4 separate regions of the Homo sapiens genome follow, and all the other regions are linked to region 2. Evidence: fine-mapped expression QTL. A gene starts in region 2. Each other region holds a variant in brackets. All regions are shown on one strand. Distances are between the middles of the regions.

Region 1 (5,153 bases), 27 kb before region 2:
ACGTTTCCTGCTGCCAAAGCTCCATCATACTCCAAAACACTAGTATCAAAACTTGAGGAAGAAAATCCCTTGGACACAGGAATTGCACTTGAATTCTATCCATGGAGTTCATAAGGTTGGTCTCACTCATTTAATACATTTCCAAGAGCACTCTGTCACACAGACAATTAGAAAAGCATTATAGTGAACTTCTATAGCACTCGGCTTTTAAATTAAATCTTGCATCTGTTTGATCCATATGTCTCTTTCAGTGTTCTTATCCTTGACGTGGGTCCTAGAAAGAACATTTTCTCAAGGTTGTTTTTCTTTTTTTTCCCCATGGCTGTGATGAATTTGGAAGAATCCTCCTTCATACTGTTCTATTTCTCCTGTGACACGGAAGGATTCAGGTTTTGTGAGACCTGAAGCTAATACAATTTGGAGGACCATCTTTAAGCAAAAGAGTACAAAATTACGAATACAAAACCAGGTATGAGAGTAAAGGTTTATTTAGAATGAAAAAGAATCAATAAATTACTGGTGACTTGAAGGCTTTTTTCTGAGATATCAAACTTATGTAGAAATATATATATGTGTGTGTGTGTATATATATGTGTGTGTATATACATACATATATATATATATATATATATATATATATATATATATATATATATATATATATGTAGCAGGGAATATAGGTGCATTCCACTACAACTGGCTATTATTTTTATTTTTATTTCTTTGTAGAGACAGGGTTTTTCCATGTTGCCCAGGCTGGTCTTGGACTCCTGGGCTCAAGCCATTCACCTGCCTTGACTTCCCAAAGTACTGGGATTACAGGTGTAAGCCACAGTGCCCAGCTGTATGTAGAAATATTTCTTGATCATAACCTGGCTCCCTTCTCAACTCCACAGCATTCAGCACCCACAGGGGAAGTGAGGGGAAGTGGGCTGAGGCTTCATCAGCTTCATGGTAAATCTGCCTCTGACAGGCAATTGTGCAATTCACAATCCAGGCGTATTTGTTGAGCACTTTCAGAGACATTAAGTCTGGGTCCTTATCCAATGGACTTTCTTGATTCTTCTAACCAGTTTCTGAGTATGAGACCATCAGAGCAGTAACACTGAGTAGTAGTAACTGGGCCAAGAAGGGCATGGGCTTTTGGAAATGGCTTTTTGGTGTTCACTGTTGGAATGGGCTTCATTTCTGAAACCTCAGCACTGCGTTTGTGCCGGCTGCCTGTGTTCATGATAGAATTATGCAGAACGATCAACTCTCCCCAAAATGCATCTTCAGCAGAACGAGCTGACTCATCATCAGAATTCTATGGGTTGTCATAAGCAGGCTGAAGAATTGTTTCTGTTTTCTTTTTAATTTTATTTATTTATTTATTTATTTTTGTTTTAAGAATTGTTGACTGACTTCTTCCCACCGCTCCATCTCATGGGCTCAAAAAACATATTTCTCATTGCTTCCCTTTCTGTTCATCTGCCTCCTCGCCCATTTATCTCTGTGTCCTAGAGGCCAAGGGAAGTCCAAACAAAGCTCTGAGGCAATGTGAGTGGGCCGGAGCTGCAGTGATCTGCTAGACCCCAAAGTGAGCTCCCAATTCCTTCTCATGTCACCTCCCCAAAGAGAAATGCACCCCCGCTTTGGAGGCTGTCCTTCCAGCCCTGAAAGATTATCTGCTTCAGCTAGCTCATGAATCAAAGCTTGATTTTAAGGAGCAGGTGATAGGTGGTAAATGCTGCTGTATCTGTAAATCAGAGTCACCATTAGTGATGGGTTTGTGAATCTAGAAAGGGGAAAGGGTGGGAGAGGCAGATCCCTCATCCCGAGTCCTGGCTCTGCCACTCACAGCTGTGTGACCTAGGGCAAGTTATCTAACCTCTCTGCGCCTCACCTCATGTGAAAAGTCAGGATAATAAATGTACCCACCTTATAGAATTTTAGTGAGGATTAAATGAATTAAAGTTTATGTTTCTTAGCCTGTTTTTTGTTGCTTTATAACAAAATACTTGAAACTGGGCAATTTATAAGAAATAACACTTCTCCCTTTCCCTTTCTTTCCTTTCTCTTTCTTTCTTTCTTT[CTTTCTTCT/C]TTCTTTCTTTCTTTCTCTTTCTTTCTTTCCTTTCTTTCTCTCTCTTTCTCTTTTCCTTCTTTCCTTCCTTCCTTCCTTTCTTTCCTTTCTTTCCCTCTCTTTCTCTTTTCCTTCTTTCCTTCCTTTCTTTCCTTTCTTTCTCTCTCTTTTCTTCCTTCCTTCCCTCCCTCCTTCCCTCCTTTCTTTCTTCCTTTCTTCCTTTCTTTTCTTTCTTTCTTTTCTCTTTTTTTTTCTTTCAACAGAGTTAAGCTCTTGTCGCCCAAGCTGGAGTGCAGTGGTGTGATCTTGGCTCACTGCAACCTCTGCCTCCTGGGTTGAAGTGATTCAGCCTCCCAAGTAGCTGGGAATACAGGTGCCAGCCACCATGCCCAGCCCAGCTAATTTTTTTGGTATTTTTAGTAGACACAGAGTTTCACCATGTTGGCCAGGCTGGTCTTGAACTTCTGACCTCAGGTGATCCGCCTGCCTCAGCCTCCCAAAGTGCTAGGATTACAGGTGTGAGCCACCACACCTGACCACATTTATTTCTTACAGTTTTAGAGGCTGGGAAGTCCAAGGTTGAGGGGCATATCTGATGAGACCCTTCTTGGTGGTGGGAACTCTCTCTAGAGTTCTTTTTTTTGAGACAGGGTCTCACTCTGTCACTCAGGCTGTACTGCAGTGGAGCTATCATGGCTCATTGCAGCCTCAACCTTCTAGGCCCAAGTGATCCTCCCACCTCAGCCTCCCAAGTAACTGGGACCACAGGCGTGTGCCACCATGCCCGGCTAATTTTGTTTATTTTTATAGAGACAGGATCTCCCTATGTTGCCCAGGCTGGTCTCAAACTCCTAGGCCTAAGCGATCCTCTGCAGAGTTCTGAGGTGGTGCAGGGCATCACATGGCGAGGGGGCTGAGTGTGCTAGCTCCGGTTTCCTTTCCTCTTCTTATAGCACCATGAGACCCACTCCCACGATAACCCGTTAATCTGTTAATCCATGGATCCATAAATGAGTTAATCCATTCATGACAGTAGAGCCCTCATAACTCAATCACCTCTTAAGGACCCCACTTCTCAACATTGCCACATTGGAGATTAAGTTTTAACATGAATTTTGGAGAAGACAAGCATTCAAACCGTAACATCATGTGAGTTATTGTTACTGTGACTTCTGGGACTCAGTACTGGTAACTTTATCCTTTACAAAGGGGAAGGAATACTGTGAAGAATTATTTCCAACTTCTGCTTAATTTCCCAGTTACCTGAGTTCTGCTTACCAAGGTGAAGTCAAGAGCTCTATTTGGCATTCCCTAGGATGGTCCCTGGGGTAGGCTGAATAATGGTGCCCCCAAAGAGATCTGCGTCTTAATCTCTGGGCTTGTACATACCCTATGTGTCCAGATGGGCTGGCAGATATGATTAAAGTAAGAATCTTGAGATGGAGAGATGATCCTGGGTTATTTGGGTGGGCCCTACATGTAATTACAAGAACCCTTATAAAACAGACACATAGACAAGAAGACAGAGAAAAGAGGATGAGGCAATGTGACCACAGAGGCAGAGACTGGCATGAGGTGGCCACTAGTCGATAGGTACAACTATTATGTATCAATATTTTTTTAAAAAAGAAATTCCTGGAGTCACCAGAAGCTGAAAGAGATAAGAAATGGATTCTCGCCTAGAGCCTCAGGAGGGGACACAGCCTTGCATACATCTTGAGCTTGGACTTCTGGCCTCCAGAAATGTAAGACAATAAATTTATGTTGTTTTAGGCCAGTCAGTTTGTAATAATGTGTTCTGGTGGCTTTTACAAATATACAAGCAGGCCAGGCACAGTGGCTCATGCCTGTAATCTTAGCACTTTGAGAGTCCAAGGCAGGAGGATTGCCTGAGGCCAAGAGTTCAAGACCAACCTGGCCAACACAGGTTCACTTTACTTTACATATATATATATATTTTATATATATATGTCTTCACTTTATATATATTATATATTTTATATATTATATATTTTATATATTATATATAATATATTTTATATATTATATATTATAGATATTAGATATTATATATTTTATATATTATATAATATATATTTTATATATTATATAATATATATTTTATATATTATATAATATATTCTATATTTTATACATTATATATAATATATTCTATATTATATATAAAATATAATATAGAATATTATATTTTATATATATTTTATATTTATATATTATATTTTTATATTTTATATTATATATATTATATATTATATATTTTATATTTTATATATTATATATTTTATATATTATATATATTTTATATTTTATATATTGTATATTTTATATTATACACACACACACACACACACACACACACACACACACACACATAATCAGCCATTGGCAGTTACAGCTGCCACCGGGCAGGGCGTGATGTTTAGGCACTGCTGTTTCTGAGAACCAAGTCCAAAGGGCGCCCCCTAAGAATGGCCTTTCCCTTGCCCAGGAGCTAACCCTGGGGAAGTGGATGGTGTTAGGCTGGAGAGAGGTTCTTGCTTCTTCATCTCATCCCGAATTCTGAAACTTGGCTGCATGCTGAGCCCTTTAAATGGGTCTGGCCAGCCAATGGAACAAGCTCCCATAAGAGTACAAAAGCCCAGTGCTCAGCCAGCTCCAAATTCGTAGTGCCATGGTCCTCTCTGGCTCTCTAGACCCTGCCCCCATACCTGCCTCAAGCACTCTTTGCTTCAATCCCCCACACCTCACATGTAATAATTGTCACCATTTCTGGAGCCATGGCTCTCTGCCAGCACCTTTTATGAAGACTTCACATGTGCTGGCTCATGACTCTTCACAACAGCCCCATAAGACAGGTCCATTGTTAGCCCATTTTATAGATGAGGAGACTGACTTGAGCTAGCTCAAGGTCACCTGCCTGGTGAGTGGCAGGCACAGTGCAGTGATTTGGACCTGGCCGACTGGCTTCCTAGGCCAAGCTCTTCATCATGACCCTACGTGCTGACTGCATCATGGTCCATCTGGCACCTCCTGGCTCCTCATGCTGCAGCCCTGAGCCCAAGGCTCCCTT
Region 2 (5,153 bases):
GTTTGTTTTTTGAGACGACATCTTACTATGTTGCCCAAGCTCATCTTGAACTCCTGGGCTCAAGTGATCCTCCCTCTGCCTCTGCCTCCCAAAATGTTGCGATTACAGGTGTGAGCCACCCTGCCCGGCCTTGTGTTTCATTTTTAACCCTGATATAAGTAACAACACATCTGCTTATTAATATGTTCATGTTAACATTTACTATCCAGTTTGGGTGGAAGGAGAGTGTTCTCTGCCTCTGAGGTCCAGTTTTAACATTTATAAGTGCAGCGGGTCCTCCTGTTGTGGCCCACAAACCTTACTTGGGAAAATGTCACATTTGAGCAACCACACAAAACTACTCTGTGATCTCTGAATATAGTAAGGTCACCAGCCCCCACTTGATCTTCTGTTAAATGACCAAGATCATTTCTGGTCAGAAAGTATGTGTGTTTTTGCGAGTTTTTTTTGTCTTTGTTGACACATAATGGTGTAGAAATCAAGCTTAAAACTGATTGTAGAACAGTTTGGTGAGAAAGATTTTTGCTTTTCTGCCATAATATTCCCCTGGACTTTGCTTCGGGTCCAAAGTAACACCGGGAAGTTTAAGACCACAGAAATGTGACTAAATGAATGCTGATCACATTTACAAAAGCAAGTGACTTTGTCCAAAGTCTCTCATTCTCAGATCCATAGTAGACATATAGATACTTTTTCTAAGGGCAAAATTTCCTGGTTCACTAAGCCAGACTTCCATGTTATTGACGAAATAAAGATAATATTGAAAATGACAGTGTCTGAGAAGCAATCTCAAACTGCCTTTTATTACTGCACACAGTTAACGTGGAATTGAGAATCACTTTCTTTCTAACATAAAATGTGAGCCGTAGAGTTACTACTGAAATTCACCACAGTGATTCAGCCAACAACTCAACTTATTCCTTTGCAAAAATTTCTGAAGGTTTTTTTTTCTCCCTTCAATCTCAGCATTACAAAATAATGAGCAAACAGTTAAATTGGCCCAGCTCTGAGTTTCAAGAGAGATTTATGGTCTGCTCATCCTCTGGAGGGACCATAAAACCACCGATGACATCTTACTTTGAAATCTCTTGTATTAAGTAAAGAGATGGGTGTGGTGCGATAGTGAACTCTGCATGTGAGTGGTATTTAGACAAGTTCTGTACTTCAAAACAGAGTCCTTAACTCATACGAAGGCTTCCTGCCACTAGCAAGGGATCTCAGTAATGAGCGTGCTGCCTTCCCTAACACCCCCATCCTTTTCCAGAAAGATTCTTAATTTTATCCTAAATATATTTGATATTTTTTCCTCTGTATTTTGCTTTGGGTTTAAAAAATTCCCTGAAAGATTTTTTTCTCGTCTGTGGAAGCATCAAGCCGCAGATCCAAGTCAGTCCAAATCACCAGGATCATACAAGACGATAAAAGTGCCTTCAAGTTCTAATACTTGCTGGATGGGCCCAAGCCGCGTTTTAAATGTGAACAATGGGGTGGCTGCGGCAGAGAACTGACCATTTACTTCCTGCCTCAGATGACCCCCTTGTGATCTCTGAAACTGGGCAGAGGAATAAGGAAAGGGAAAGAACTGGGTTTTGGGGAGAAACATGCTTTCTGGAAGGCGCCCAGGTTTACCCAAAGAGCACAGTTAAGTGCTGAATTTCAACTAGCTCTGGAGTCACCCTGTTTGGGGCCTCATTCTGGAAACCCGAAGTCCAGCGGCAGCTTTCCTCCACATCAGGACAGAGAGTGGGGTTTGGGAGCGGACGAGGGAGCGGGAGTGGACGAGGGAGCAGGAGTGGGGCTCAACGACGACCCAGGCGCTCAAGGGGAAGGGGCTGAGAGCGTTTCTTCGCTGTGCGGCTGCAATAGAAACTTTTTCCTCGTACTATCTGACTCCGGGACTGGACTGTGAGGTCTGCAACAGCTGGTGGGGTTCGGGTGGGGAACACACTCTAAGCCCAGCGCCAGGGCTGGAGCCGTGGGTGGAGCCGCTGCAGCCCTGGGCCGGGGGCGTCAGGAAACTCGAGACTGGGGCGCGGGGAGGCCCCGGCCAGAGCGCCCGCTCTCCCGCGTCCCGGGCGGGGTCCTCACCTGTTCCAGCGGGCCACCTTCCTCCGGTAATACCGCAGCGCCTCCTGGCTGGCCAGGAGCGAGTCCTCGGCTCCCAGGAGAGGCGGCTCCTCCGGGACGTTGTACAGCGGGTGGGCGAAGAGGGCCTGCAACTTGGAGCTCGACCCGCTGTGGCTGCCGCCAGCCGGTTCAGTCCGGGGCTCGGTTCGGGAAAAGTTGTGCACGATCGTGCCGGGGTCCGAGGCAGCTGCGGCCGAGTCCCGCGCCAGGGAGGAGGCGCGGCCGGTGCACGGGCACCCCCGCGGGCGCTCCCGAGGCCGCAGCTGGCGCTGTACTTGGGGCCAGAGGTGGAAGTAGAGGTCGGCGGAGAGCAGCGCGCCCAGCAGCAGCAGAGTCAGTAGGCGGTCCCGGCGCAGCCCCGGCATGGCGTGCTGGCCAAGGGGGACGCCGGGGGCAGGCCGGCTGTCTCCGGGGTCCCGGGAGGGGTCGCGGGGTGCGGGCAGAAGAGGTGCCTGGAGTCCCGCGGGTGGGCCGGGGTCAGTGAGACCGGAATGCTCCCCGCGCGGGCTAGTCCCCTGTGGAGGGGTGTCGCTCCTCAACTTGGGGACCAGGTGCACGGAGCACCGGGGCTCTCGGAGTCAGCGGGCGTCGCTTCTCCGCGCCGAGTGAGCCGAGGGAATGGGGTTCCCGGGGTGCCCGCTTCTTGCGCCTTTTCTCCCGTGCGCCCGCCCGCCCGGACGCTCGCGGCAGGTGAAGGGCCCCGGGGCGCCGGCGCCGGCTGCCACCGCGGGCGGACGGGCGACGGGGCGGGGGGCGACCGCGGAGGGCGGACGGAGGCCGCCGGCTGCAAAGCCCGGGGCGTCTCTCCTGAGGATGCTGTCGCTCGGCGGCGGCTGCTAGTGCTCCCGCGACTCCTCCTGCGGGCGGCGGAGACGCCAGTGCCGGCGGCTGGCACGGGCGGCGCGAGTGGGGAGTTGGCGAAGCAGGAGCGGCTCCGGGGAGCTTGTCTGTGCGCCTGGACTCCTAGAGGCAGAGGTAGCGCGGGGCCTCCCCGAGCCTGGCCTGGCGCCGGCACCCCCACCCACTCTCCGCTGGCACCTGCCTCTGGCGCAGCTGACGGCCAACTCCCGATCCGAAGCCGGCGCTGCCCTTGCACCTTGTCACCCACCCACTGCCTGCGCCCTCCCCCTCGCTCGGGCCTCCCACTTTCCCTGCCCAGGTCTCAATCCAGTCACTTTAAGGGACTCACGCGAGGGGTCCGAAGCCTCTTTTTACCATTTCTATTATTTTTAGGGAAAAAAAAACCACCACAAGCCCCCTAAAACCCTTTTTTTCCTGTAAGCTTTGCCAAATGAGTGTGTGGGGGGGGGTGGGGGGAGGCGGGGGTGGCAGTGTTGGTATCTGTTCTTTCTTTGTGTTCCCTTCCACCTCCGCCCCCCTGCAGAGCGCAGGGCACATCAAGATTCATAACAACTACCTACCACATGCCTGGCACATAGTAGGTGCTCAGGAAACACGCTCTTGGTGAAGGAAAGAGCTTGACCTTTAAAAGTAAGGTATCAGTTTTACCTAGAATCTTGCTGATTTCCTGTTTGGAAGGAGTTTGATTCCAACTCTGCCTGTACTTTAAAAAGAGGAAATGTTTCTTGCACTCAGGGAGGGAGGGGCCCTGATGACCCCACTCCGAACTTTTGAGTTTAGCTTGGTGTGAAAGTAGTCCACCCAAATGAATCACTGGAGGACACATTTAGGCTTTCTCCAATATTCTGTGAGGTAATGTACCCTCCCCACACCCAGTTTTCCTTTTGAAGAAGAGGGAGGGAGTCCTGAACTCCTGGCTCCTCTATTTAATGACCCCATAGTATAGTAAAGTGAAGTCTGATTGGAGAGGCGGCCCCACCCTGCTGAATTTCAGGAAATCCACCAGAAGCTGCTTGCCCAGGCAGCAAAGCTTCCCATGTAAGTTAGTTCTACTCTTTAACCCCCTCCCTTCCCTTGCTGGAATTGAGAACCCTCAGACATACTTTGACTTGTGGGTTCAGACCAGAGTTCTTTTCCCCGTGGTTCAGTGTAAGATTTCTTCGGGACTTTGCAGTCTCCTCAAATGTAAATGAAGATAATGATGGAACCTACCTCCTAAGGTTATTATGAGACTTAAATGAATTGAAGTACAATTATGTGTCACGTCTGAGAAATGCATCCTTAGGCAATTTTCCTGTGTGTGTGAACATCAGGGTGTACTTACACAAACCTAGATGGTTCAGCCTACTACACACGGAGGCTACATGGCATAGCCTGTTGATCCTAGGTACAAACCTGTACAGCATGCGACTACTGAATGCTGTAGGGAGTTGTAACACAGTGGTGAGTACTTGTGTGTCTAAACATAGGAAACATACAGTAAAAATACAGTATTGTAATCTTATGGGACCACTGTTGCATTGACTAAAATGTTATGTGGCACTTGACTATGTATAAATTACTTAGAAGAGCTCCTAACTCATCCTAAATAAGTGTGAAATATGTGTTTGCTATCATTATGATTACTTATTAGTTCCTGTAGTACACTAGGCTTGGTTAGAGACTGCTCATCGCTAGGACAAAAATAGAAAAGGATGGAAAAGGAAGATAGCAGGAAGGAACCTGCTTTCAGGGGCATAACATTGTGGCCTGAGTGCCCAGTCCAAGTGAAAAAGCCCAAGACGGTACTATTCCCAGCTACTCCACTCCTCTGGGTATGATGGTGGGCATTTTGAGGGGTTCTAGAACCTCCTCCTTTTTATCTGGAATTAAATTTTAACTGATTTCCAATTTCTGAGAGACGTTGCAACTTCTAATGTGTTTAATTAGATGTCATGGCAAGCGAATGAAGAAGTCAGGCATTGAATGGTGGTGATGTAACTGCAGTAACTGTGTGGCAAACTGATGCGCATTTTTCTCGGCTGGCAAAGGACGTGGATGTGGTGACACTGCAGGTCTTGTGACTTCAATTCTCCTCAACCCATGGGGTCATACTCGCTTAGTAGACTCTTTTTTTTCTGGCCCCAATTTAGGGAACAATAGTGTAACTTGCTTGGAAATTATGT
Region 3 (5,153 bases), 140 kb after region 2:
GAGCGCTGATCTAAAAAAACAAGCAGAAAATAGTAGCTTAGAAGATAAAAAGCTAAGCAGAGGTTTCAGCAGTCTCACTGCTGGAGAGACAAACATTGAAATTCAGAGCTTGCCAAGGAGGAGGGGCCTGGCGAACATCCTAGGCTTTTAGTTGAGCCTCATCAGGTGCTATGCACTAGGATTAAGGTGACCAGAAATTGACCAGCTCTCACAAAGCCTGAAACAGAGCTTTCATCCGTTGTTGGATGAAAACACATGATTTTCATCCCTTGTTGGATCAAGGTGATGAGACTAACCATATTTGCTTGCCAGAAGAAAATTAATCATCTCTGGAGAAAGATAACATCACCTAGAACCACTGTAGTTTTTACATACAATGTCTGACAGTCAATTAAAATGACCTGATATACCAGGAAGCACGGCCAATCAACCCAGTCCTAAGAGGAAAAACAGACAGTAGTGAGACACAGACTTTAAAATAAATATTATAAATATGTTAAAAAACAAATGAACATATAGAGAATTTCACTAGAGAATTGGAAATGATTTTATTGTGGATAAAAAGACGTAGAAATTTATAGGTTAAAAAATAACATAAGAAATGAAGAATTTAATAAATGGATTTAATAGCAGATTAGACACAGAAGAAGAAATGGCTAGTAAATTCTCTTTTAAAATACCCAGATTGGAGCACAGATACTAAAATAAAGAATGGAAAATATAGAAAAAGTATAAGAAGCCTATGAAAATTTCTGAAATTGGCTAGCATGTGTAATTGGAGTGCCAGAAAAAGAGGAGAAATGGTGTTAGGGAGAAACAGTATTTGAAAAGATGCTGGTTGATAATTTCCAAGTTGACAAAAGGCATCAATTCACAAATTGAAGAATCTCTTACACTAAGCGAAGTAAATGTAAAGACAGCCCAACCTATTAAAATTGCAGAAAGACCAAGAAAGTAAAAAAATGTTAGAAGCAGCTGGAGAAAAAAGACATATTATATTCAAAGGAGAAATTATATGGCCAAAAGCTGTCTTTCAACATAAACTATAGAAGCCAGAAGATAATAAAATGATAAGTTTAAAGTGCCGAAGGAAAAAGGTGCTAATATAGAAAACTACACCCAGAAAAACTATCCCTTAATAAGTGAAGATGAAATATAGACATTTTGAGAAAGAATTTTGTAGATTAAAAAAATTGGAGGTTATTCATTTTCATTTTGTAAAAGAATGATACCAAAAACTTGGCTAGAAAGGAAAACTATAGGCCAATCTCTCTTACAAAAATATGTAAAAATTTAAACATTATACTAGCAAATCACACCCAGTGACGTATAAGGTAACACATCATGCAAATTTGCCTCCTGGAATGCAAATTTGGTTTAGCATTTGATAATCAAATAATGTAAGTCACCATGTTAACAGAATAAAGACTAAAAAACATAATAATCTCATTGGATGCAGAAAGAATATTTGATAAAATTCAACACCTATTCATGATAAAAAATCACCTTACAAACTAGGAAACAAAGGGAACTTTTTAAATTTGATAAAGGTTATTTATAAAGGACTTATAGCAAACATCCTGCTTAATGGTGAAATATTGAAAGCTTTCCCGCTGAGATCAGGGGCAAGATAAGGATGCTTACAAATACCACCTATTTTCAGTATGGCATAGAAGGTCAGTGCAATAAAGCAATGAAAAAAAAAAGCCTTTAAAAATGGCAGATGAATAAATGAAACAATTACTATTTGAGGAAGCCACATATATAAACACTATTTGTGCATGTACAAAATTCAAAAGAATCTACTAGCAAACAATTAGAATTAATAAGTAAATTTAGCAAGGTTGATGGATAAAAGGTCAACATAGAAAAATCAACTGTATTTTTATACAGTACCAATAATTACAAATGAAAAATTTTAAATGACACCTCTTACAGTCACACCAATAACTTAAAAAATCTAGAAATATGTCTAAACGAGATTTTATTATCTTTGCATAGAACACCATAAAAATTATTGTATTAGTTTCATAGGTCTGCTGTAACAAATTACCACAAATTAGTGCCTTTTAAGGCACAAATTAGTGCCTTAAAACAATAGAAATTTATTCTCTTAC[T/A]GTTATGGAGGTCAGAAGTCTGAGCCAACATGTTGGCAGGGACATCCACCTTCTGGAGTCTCCAGGGGGAACTCTTTCCCTGCCTCTTCCAGCTTCTGGTGGCTCCGGGCATTCCTTGGTTGCATGACTTTAATCTCTTCCTCCATCTTCACATAGCCTTCTCCCGTATGTGTGTGTGTGTGTGTGTGTGTGTGTGTGTGTGTGTGTGTGTGTGTGTGTGTGTGAGAGAAATCTCCTGCTTTTCTCTTATCAGGACACCTGACATTAGATTTAAGACTTATGCTAGACCCAGGATGATCTCGAAAAATTTTAAATGTCAAGATCCTTAACATTAGTTATATCTACAAAGACTCTTTTCCTGATAAGTATGACATGAACAGGAGAAAGGGAAACACTGGGTAGAAGAGGGTGGTTCCCTGGCAAAGGCACAACCCTCAAGCCTGGAGACCCGTGGCCCTAAGTGGGAACAGGCATTTCTGTTTTCACACCCAAAAAGTTGCCTTTTGGCCCTCCACACGCCCTATCCTGTACCCATATAAACTCCGAATCCCAGGCTCCACAAGCAGACAAGCAGACAGATGAGCAGATGAGGAGACAAGGAGATGAGGAGACAAGCAGATGAATGGTGGAATGGCATGACAGAGAAGCAGAGAAGAGAAGGAACGTCTAAACACTGAGAGGAGTCCGGCTGGGTTTGGTTGAAGAAGAGTTTGGCCACTAGATGGCCAAACTCCAGGAGAAGATCAACTTCCCACTCCATCCCCCTTCCAGCTCCCTATCCAACTCACTGACAGCCACCTCCAGCACTCAGTAAAACTCCATGTTCATCCCTCAAGCCTATGTGTGACCTGATTCTTCTGGGATGCTGGGCAAGAGCTGAGGATAAAGAAAGCTGTCACATTGGCCCTCTGCCCTTGTGAAAAGGCAGAGGTGTCCATTGAGCTGGTTAACACTTAAGCCATCTGTGGATGGCAAGGCTATAAGAGCACTGTAACACTGGGGCCTCAGACACCCACCCCTAGATGCCACCATGGGGCCAGAGCCCAAAGCACTCACCCCGGCTCTTGCACCTACCTGTTTGTGTGCTCCTGCTCCTGTCAGGGGTGTGAGCAGTGGCAGAGACCAAAGAGGGGAGCCACACCCCTGTTATATGTCTTGTGAGGGCGATCAGGGAACTCTCCTGTTTCAAAGTCCCATTCACAGGTTTTGGGTGGAAATATCTTTTGGGCTGGGGGACCCACAATTCTAACACACTACAATTTTCAAGAGAAATTAGTAATACTCTAAATAAATGGAAAAACATATTATAGTCATAGATTAAATATTGTAAAGATGGTAATGCTCACCAAACCAACTTATACATCCAATATCCTATCAAATCTTTGAAGTTTTTTTTAAATTGACAAACTAATTTTAAAATTTATATAGACAAGCAAGTGACCAACCATGTTAAAGATGATCTTGAAGAATAGAGTTGGAGGCTCTACACTACAGATAATATTATTATGAGGTTACAGTAAATATAGAAGAATGTTATTGATTTAAGGGTATACCAATGGTAGAGGAGAAGAGTGTGCAAAAACAATTCCATACATATACAGTCACCTAATTTACAACGACGTTACAGCATCACAGACAGATGACATTTTTAATAAATGTTGCTGAATCAATTAGATATTCACATGGGAATAATAATCTCGATTGCTTACTCACACCAAATAGGAAAATCAGTTCTAGAAAATATAAAAGGTAAAACAATAAACTTCTATAAAAAAGAGAAAATACTTAAACTTAGGGTGGATAGTAGTTTTTAAACAGGATTCACAATAAACGAAAGGAAAGAATATTTGATAAATTGGACTTCATGAAAATAAAATATTGCTGTTTTTCAAAAGATGCTATAATAAAAGAGAAAACTCATTTACTGGGAAAAGAAATTTGAAATATATATCTAACAAAGGACTTATATCTAGTATCTATAAAGAATTTCTACAAATCATTAAGGAAAAAAACTCAAAAAAAAGGGTAAACAAATTACTTCCCAAAGAGACTATTTAACTGGACATTCAACAAAGAAAAAATGTTCAACGTTATTAGTCATCAGGAAAATGCAAATTAAAACTACATGAGATACTATTAGACACCCAAATGGCCCAAATTAAAAAAACCAAAAACGTAACCTAGTACGACATGCAACATTATTATTTAACTGTCATTAGTGTAACCTAGTACAAAAGGCAATATTATTTTTTCTAAGAAAAAAGAGAATGAGTTACTATTTTTAAAAATTGTTTTCTCTTCATTTCTGTTTACTCTATTTCCCCCATTCCTGACTTCCTACTTAGCCCTTTAGAAATGCAATTATAACCTCTTACCTCCCCTCACCAGATACTTGCTGCAGATCAAGTTCATGTAACTATGTGCTTAGAAGCTCCAGAGAGGAACTCTCACCCACCAGGAGACTGCCTTGAGAGATAATAGTCAACTCATAACCCAAAGTATGTTTGCTACAAAACTCTCTCCCACCCAGAGAGTTTTCAGCCACCTTTACAACCTATTTCTGCCCATGAAAATGCCAACTCTACTGCCCGATAGGTAAGGCACCAATGTGATATGCAGGCCCCGACTTGTTCATTTCCACCTCTGCATAGACTCCCTCTTTAAAAGCACCCACTTTCTGCTGCAAAAGTGAAGCAGTACCGTTAAGGATACTTAAGGCAGGAAGCCTGTACTTCCCCTATACTACTTTAGGAATAAAAAGTCACTTTCTTTATACCAGACCTCACTCTTGTTAGTTAGACTCTGCTGGTGGTGAGTGACTGACCCTGTGTTTTGGTTACTAAGCAGTGTTGAGAACTTGGAGTAAATGGAATGTTCATACAATACTAGTCAGTGTAAATTTATATAACCACTTTGAAAAGCTGTTTGTCTATATCTATTAAACCTATGAATATATGCATGCCCTACTACCCATCAATTACATTATTTGATATATAAACAATAGAAATAAAACATTTCGTCTGCCAAAAGAATGTA
Region 4 (5,153 bases), 28 kb after region 2:
TGAATACACAAACGTCACAAACTGTAAGATGCCATTAATGGTAAGATACCTTTTATTTTATGTTCCCCAAATAAGAAACACTCCTGCCAATATGATCTGCCAATATGATCTGTCATAAGATGGATAGCGCACTGTTGATTTTAATACATAGCATAATTTCAGAGATGTGTGAACAAAATGTGCATCTTACAATCAGTGACACTATGGTAGTTGTAATCATCACATACACAAATTTTATATAATGTATTTTTTCCTAATTTTTTTTTTTTTGAGACAGGGTCTCACTCTGTCACCAGGTTGGAGTTCAGTGGCTTAATTATGGCTCACTGCAACCTCTGCCTCCCACGCTCAAGTCATTCTCCCATCTCAGCCTTCTGAGTAGCTGGGACTACAGGTGCTCACCACCATGCCTGGCTAATTTTTGTATTTTTTTGCAGAGACAGGGTTTCACCATGTTGCCCAGGCTGGTTTTGAACTCCTGAGCTGAAGCGATCCACCCGCCTCGGCCTTCCAAGGTGCTAGTATAACAGGCATGAGCCACCGCGCCAGGCTCCTGGATGTTTTATCGTGGACATAGTCCAAGGTTGTATGCCATCTTTATCCCATCCATTTTTCTGTGTGTGTGATTTTTTTTTTTTTTTTAGTAGAGACGGGGTTTCACCATGTTAGCCAGGATGGTCTCAATCTCCTGACCTCGTGATCTGCCCGCCTCAGCCTCCCAAAGTGCTGGGATTACAGGCGTGAGCCACCGCGCCTGGCCCCCAATCCATGACAAAAAACTTCGAATAGTACATGTCCATGTATTATTTCTACCAGTTTTTATATACTTCCGGGAATAGTCTGCGCACACTCAAGCATCTCTCTTCCCTTGTTTTCTCTTCTCTTTGTTTTTTCTCTTTTAACACACTTGGTAGCACACTAAGTGCATTGTTCTGCACCTTGCGCTTTTCAGTGAGCAATGTGTCTTGGTAATAGTTTCATAATACTTTGTAAAGATCCTCTTCAATATTGAGGCTGAGAAGTCTGACTTTAGCATTTCCTCCACCATTTTTTCCCTCTAAATTATTATTATTATTTTTTTTTTGCGACAGAGTCTTGCTCTGTCGCCCAGGCTGGAGTTCCGTGGCGCAATCTTGGCTCACTGCAACCTCCACCTCCTGGATTCAAGCAATTCTCTTGCCTCAGCCTCCTGAGTAGCTGGGATTACAGGCATGTGCCATCACACCTGGCTAATTTTTGTATTTTTAGTAGAGACGGGGTTTCACCATGTTGGTCAGGTTGGTCTCAAACTCCTGACCTCGTGATCCACCCACCTCAGCCTCCCAAAGTGCTGGGATTACAGGCATGAGCCACCACGCTTGGCCTCTAAGATCTTTTTAAGATCTTTTATTTATTCATGATTTGTAAAGTTCTGTGATAATTTAGCTCTATTTTTCCTTCTGATGCTGGCTTCCTTGTATATTCTTTCAGTCTACAGGCTGCTAGCTTTTACTCCTGTATGTATGTGTATAAATGTGTGTGTGTGTGTGTGTGTGTGTGTGTGTGTATTTTTCTTTACCTGTTTTCTGTTTGTCTGGAACGGAAACTTCTATTCCTGTTATTTGACTGTTAGGTTTTCTGGGTTAATCCTTTCTCTCATGTCTTGCTTTTGCCCATAATTTTTATTTCCTGATCTCTATTTGCTATCTTTGTGGGAAGGAAACTGGGATGAACTTTATATTCATGGAAAGATAAAGTTCCATAGAAATTTTTACTTTGCGTGCTCTAGCTTTATTTATTAAGAGCTCTTCTTTCCTCACTGATTAATAAATTCTTGTTTTATGGATACATTATCTTCTCATATCTTTCCAAGGATGTTATGTTAAGGTTGTTTTATGGATGCATTATCTTCTCATATCTCTCCAAGGATGACATTTAGCACAAATCCCTTCCTTTCCTTTCCCTTTCTCTTTCTCTTTCTCTCTCTTTCTTTCTTTCTTTTCTCCCTTTCTGGCTCTGTCTTTCTCTTTCTTCCTCCCTTTGTCTCTCCTTTTTAAAAAATTAACCCAAACTTTGGCATATTGAGAAATAATGTGGGAAAAGAGGTAAGGCAGATGAAAGACCAAGAAACCACTTTTATTAAACAATTGAAGAGTCAGGTAGAGGATGCAGTTTAGTCTAAGAGTCCAGTGGGCCTGCAAACTCAACCCCAGAACTGGGAAACTTAGGCAGCCAATCACGGGCAATGCTGAACTGGGACAGGACTCCTCCCATGGTACGACTGTTCTCACTGAGGGGTAGAAAAAAACATGCTCTGTCTTGGAAAGACTCACTCCCAGGAGGAAAGGGTGGAGCTGAACTAAGTCTGACCGGTTCTTTCTCCCAGACTCACCTTTACTGCCCTGTGGGAGAGGCTAGTGGGAGGGTGGGCAAGGCCAGAGCGTGTCCTGCCTCCATGTGGAGGGAGATACGGGAAGCTGGTAAGTCTCCCTGCCAACCTCTCCTTGGGGTGGAGGGTCAGTTCCTGGTTTCTGGCACTCTGTGTGTGGGAGTAGGTGAAGGTGCTGACTGTTATAAATACTGAATTCCATCTTAGCCTCCAGGGTTGCTCTTGTGTCCCCCTCCTACACTCTGTGATATCAGATGTCCCCAGCTTATGAGTTTCTCTGACTCTCTGTGGTGGGGAGAGGCAGGTCTATTCTCAGCCCTCTGCTTTTATTCACAGCTTTCTCTGCCCTGCTAAAGAAGTTACTCCCTCTGCCCTGTTTCTCCTTCCTCAAAACTGTTTATCTTTCCCATTCAGGACATCTCTTGTCCTGATGTCTCTGTTTGTGAGAATTTATGTATTTTTTTCTCCTTTACTGTGGAAAGAGATGCATTAAAGCACAAGCTTTAGATTCTTACACTTGCTTTGCCGCATACTAACTATGTGACTTTGGACAAGTTATTTAACCTCTCTTTGCCTTAGATTCTTCAATTGTAAAATGGATTGTTATAAGGTTGGAAAGTGACAACACATGTAAAGTGCCCAGATTAACGTCTGGCACCCAGAGAACATTCAATAAATATTAGTCATCATCATTACCATCTCAGCATCTTCTTAGTGGAGTTTTGGGAAGGGTAGGATGTAAATATGAGTGTTCTATTAATATCGCCATCTTTCTACATCAACTTGTCCAACCTGCAGCCCACAGGCCACATGTGGCCCAGGATGGCTTTGAATGCAGCCCAACACAAAATTCATAAACATTCTTAAAACATTACGAGATTTGTGCATGGA[C/CTT]TTTTTTTTTTTTTTCAGTAGCTCATCAAGTAATGTTAGTGTTAGTGTAGTTTATGTGTAGTCCAAGACAATTCTTCTTCTTCCAATGTGGCCCAGGGAAGCCAAAAGATTGAACATCCCTGTATCTACATGGTCTTCGTAGCTTTTGTTTTTATTGGTACTTTCTCCACACTGTAATTTCCATGGAGGAAAGGTCTATCTTTTTTTTTATTCTGTATTATATCTATAGCACTTGGCAAACACATGACCTATGGTATGTACTCAGACAATATTTGTGGGGTGAATCAATGAAAACAAATTCGCTCATAACATTTCTTGTAGGAGACAATATTGTATGGTAATCAAAAACATGGGCTTTTAAATGACACTGTTTGGGTTTGAACTATGGCTGGGTCATTCACTGATAGTGCAACCTTGAACACTTTCTTAATTTCTCTACCCTTCAATGTCCCCACCTGTAAACTGAGGATAAAAATTGTACCTACCTCATAAGGGTAATATGAGGACTAACAGCAATAAACTGTGAAGCATTTAACATCATGACTGGCACATAGTAATTGCTCAATGAACATTAGCTTCGATCATTGGTGGTGCTTTTGTAATTGTTTATTGCCTATATGCCAGTCACTGGGTTAGGCACAAGTATATACATCACTTACTGAGGCCCTATGATTTGCTGTATACTGTATTTAATAGCGTACACAGTAGTACTTCCTTTTCTTTTCTTGTTTTTTGAGACAGAGTCTCGCTCTATTACCCAGGTGGGAGTGCAGTGGTGTGATCTCTGCTCACTGCAATCCCTCCCTGCCTCCTGGGCTTAAGCTGTCCTCCTATGTCAGCCCTCTGGGTAGCTGAGACCACAGGCACACATCACTATGCCTGGCTAGTTTTTGTATTTTTTTGTAGAGACAGGGTTTCATCATGTTGCCCAGGCTGATCTCGAACTCCTGAGCGTATGTGATCCACCCGCTTCGGCCTCCTAAAGTGCCGGGATTACAGGCATGAGCCACAGCGCCCGGCTTGTAGTAGTTTCTATAGTCAGATACTGCGTGTGGTTTCTATAGTCAGTGGATTTGAATTCAACCCTGCTATTCAGACCTCAGCTGAATAACTTAGAACAAATTAGTTAATCTTATTGAGCCTCACTATTAATATTTGTAGAATAGGGTAATGATAAACCTACCTATAGGGTAGTTATGAGGCAAACCATGTAAAGCCCTTAGCACAGAGCTTAGCACATAGTACATGCTCAGTAAATATTAGCTATGATGATGATGATGTTGACAACAACAATTATGGTGGCAGTGACAATGATAAAACCATGGTAATTATAGTGGTGACAGGAATGATAGTGGTGACAACAGCGATGGTTGTGTCTGTGACAATGTTGATAAGGGTGTCAGTGATGCCGGCAATGAGGATAACCATACTGACCTGAGAGGCAGGAACATGCAGGAGTTATGTGCTTTGGTTGTAGAGTCAGAGGAACCTGGAGCCAAGTATCTGTTCTGTCTTAACTAGATGTGTGACTTTAAGGAAGCAATTTTATCTAATTAAATTTTGGCATCCTCTTCTGTAAAAACAATCATTGTTTCGCAGGGCTGTTGGGAAGTTTAAAAAAATGTTATATATCATTCCTTAAAGATGCCTATTTTTCATATTTTAACATCTCTGAAATTAGAAATGCATCTTGCAGTTACTGTCAGCCAGGCAGAACTAAATTTGTTTTAATTTTTAATTTTTGTGGGTACATGGTAGGCATCTATATTTGTGGGATGCATGAGATACTTTGATATAGGCATGCAATGTGAACATTCAGACTGAATTTTTCTTTCTCTTATATTCTCTTTCTCATGAAGACACAAGAGTAATTCTATGACAGTCACTAAATATA

Which allele goes with the higher level. Alleles are on the strand shown, and positions count from the first base shown. SD is a standard deviation of normalised expression in the study named. Not every link is listed here.
In carriers of allele T in region 3, the expression in thyroid of the gene that starts at base 3,193 in region 2 tends to be higher than with A alone (small effect, 0.16 SD a copy in GTEx).

The links. PIP is the estimated chance that this variant, and not a neighbour inherited with it, causes the effect.
Region 1: its variant is the best candidate, but not a certain one, in a credible set for the expression of FAM20A in whole blood (INTERVAL, PIP 0.72).
Region 3: its variant is the best candidate, but not a certain one, in a credible set for the expression of FAM20A in thyroid (GTEx, PIP 0.63).
Region 4: its variant is the best candidate, but not a certain one, in a credible set for the expression of FAM20A in whole blood (INTERVAL, PIP 0.55).

The regions. Positions count from the first base shown.
Region 1 is chr17:68,571,378-68,576,530 of GRCh38, forward strand. All of the region lies in intron 1 of FAM20A (FAM20A golgi associated secretory pathway pseudokinase), which reads right to left. Among named protein-coding and RNA genes, the nearest start is that of FAM20A, 27 kb to the right of the region's middle. The variant CTTTCTTCT/C (reference allele first, on the strand shown) is at 2,075.
Region 2 is chr17:68,598,175-68,603,327 of GRCh38, forward strand. FAM20A (FAM20A golgi associated secretory pathway pseudokinase) reads right to left here and starts at 3,193. Exons shown (of 11, transcript NM_017565.4): 1 at 2,089-3,193. The coding sequence starts at 2,492.
Region 3 is chr17:68,738,162-68,743,314 of GRCh38, forward strand. No RefSeq gene overlaps it. Among named protein-coding and RNA genes, the nearest start is that of LINC01482, 110 kb to the left of the region's middle. The variant T/A (reference allele first, on the strand shown) is at 2,118.
Region 4 is chr17:68,625,728-68,630,880 of GRCh38, forward strand. It overlaps LINC01482 (long intergenic non-protein coding RNA 1482), which reads left to right and starts at 2,427. Exons shown (of 5, transcript NR_110825.1): 1 at 2,427-2,459. RefSeq lists a silencer at 2,441-2,735. The variant C/CTT (reference allele first, on the strand shown) is at 3,260.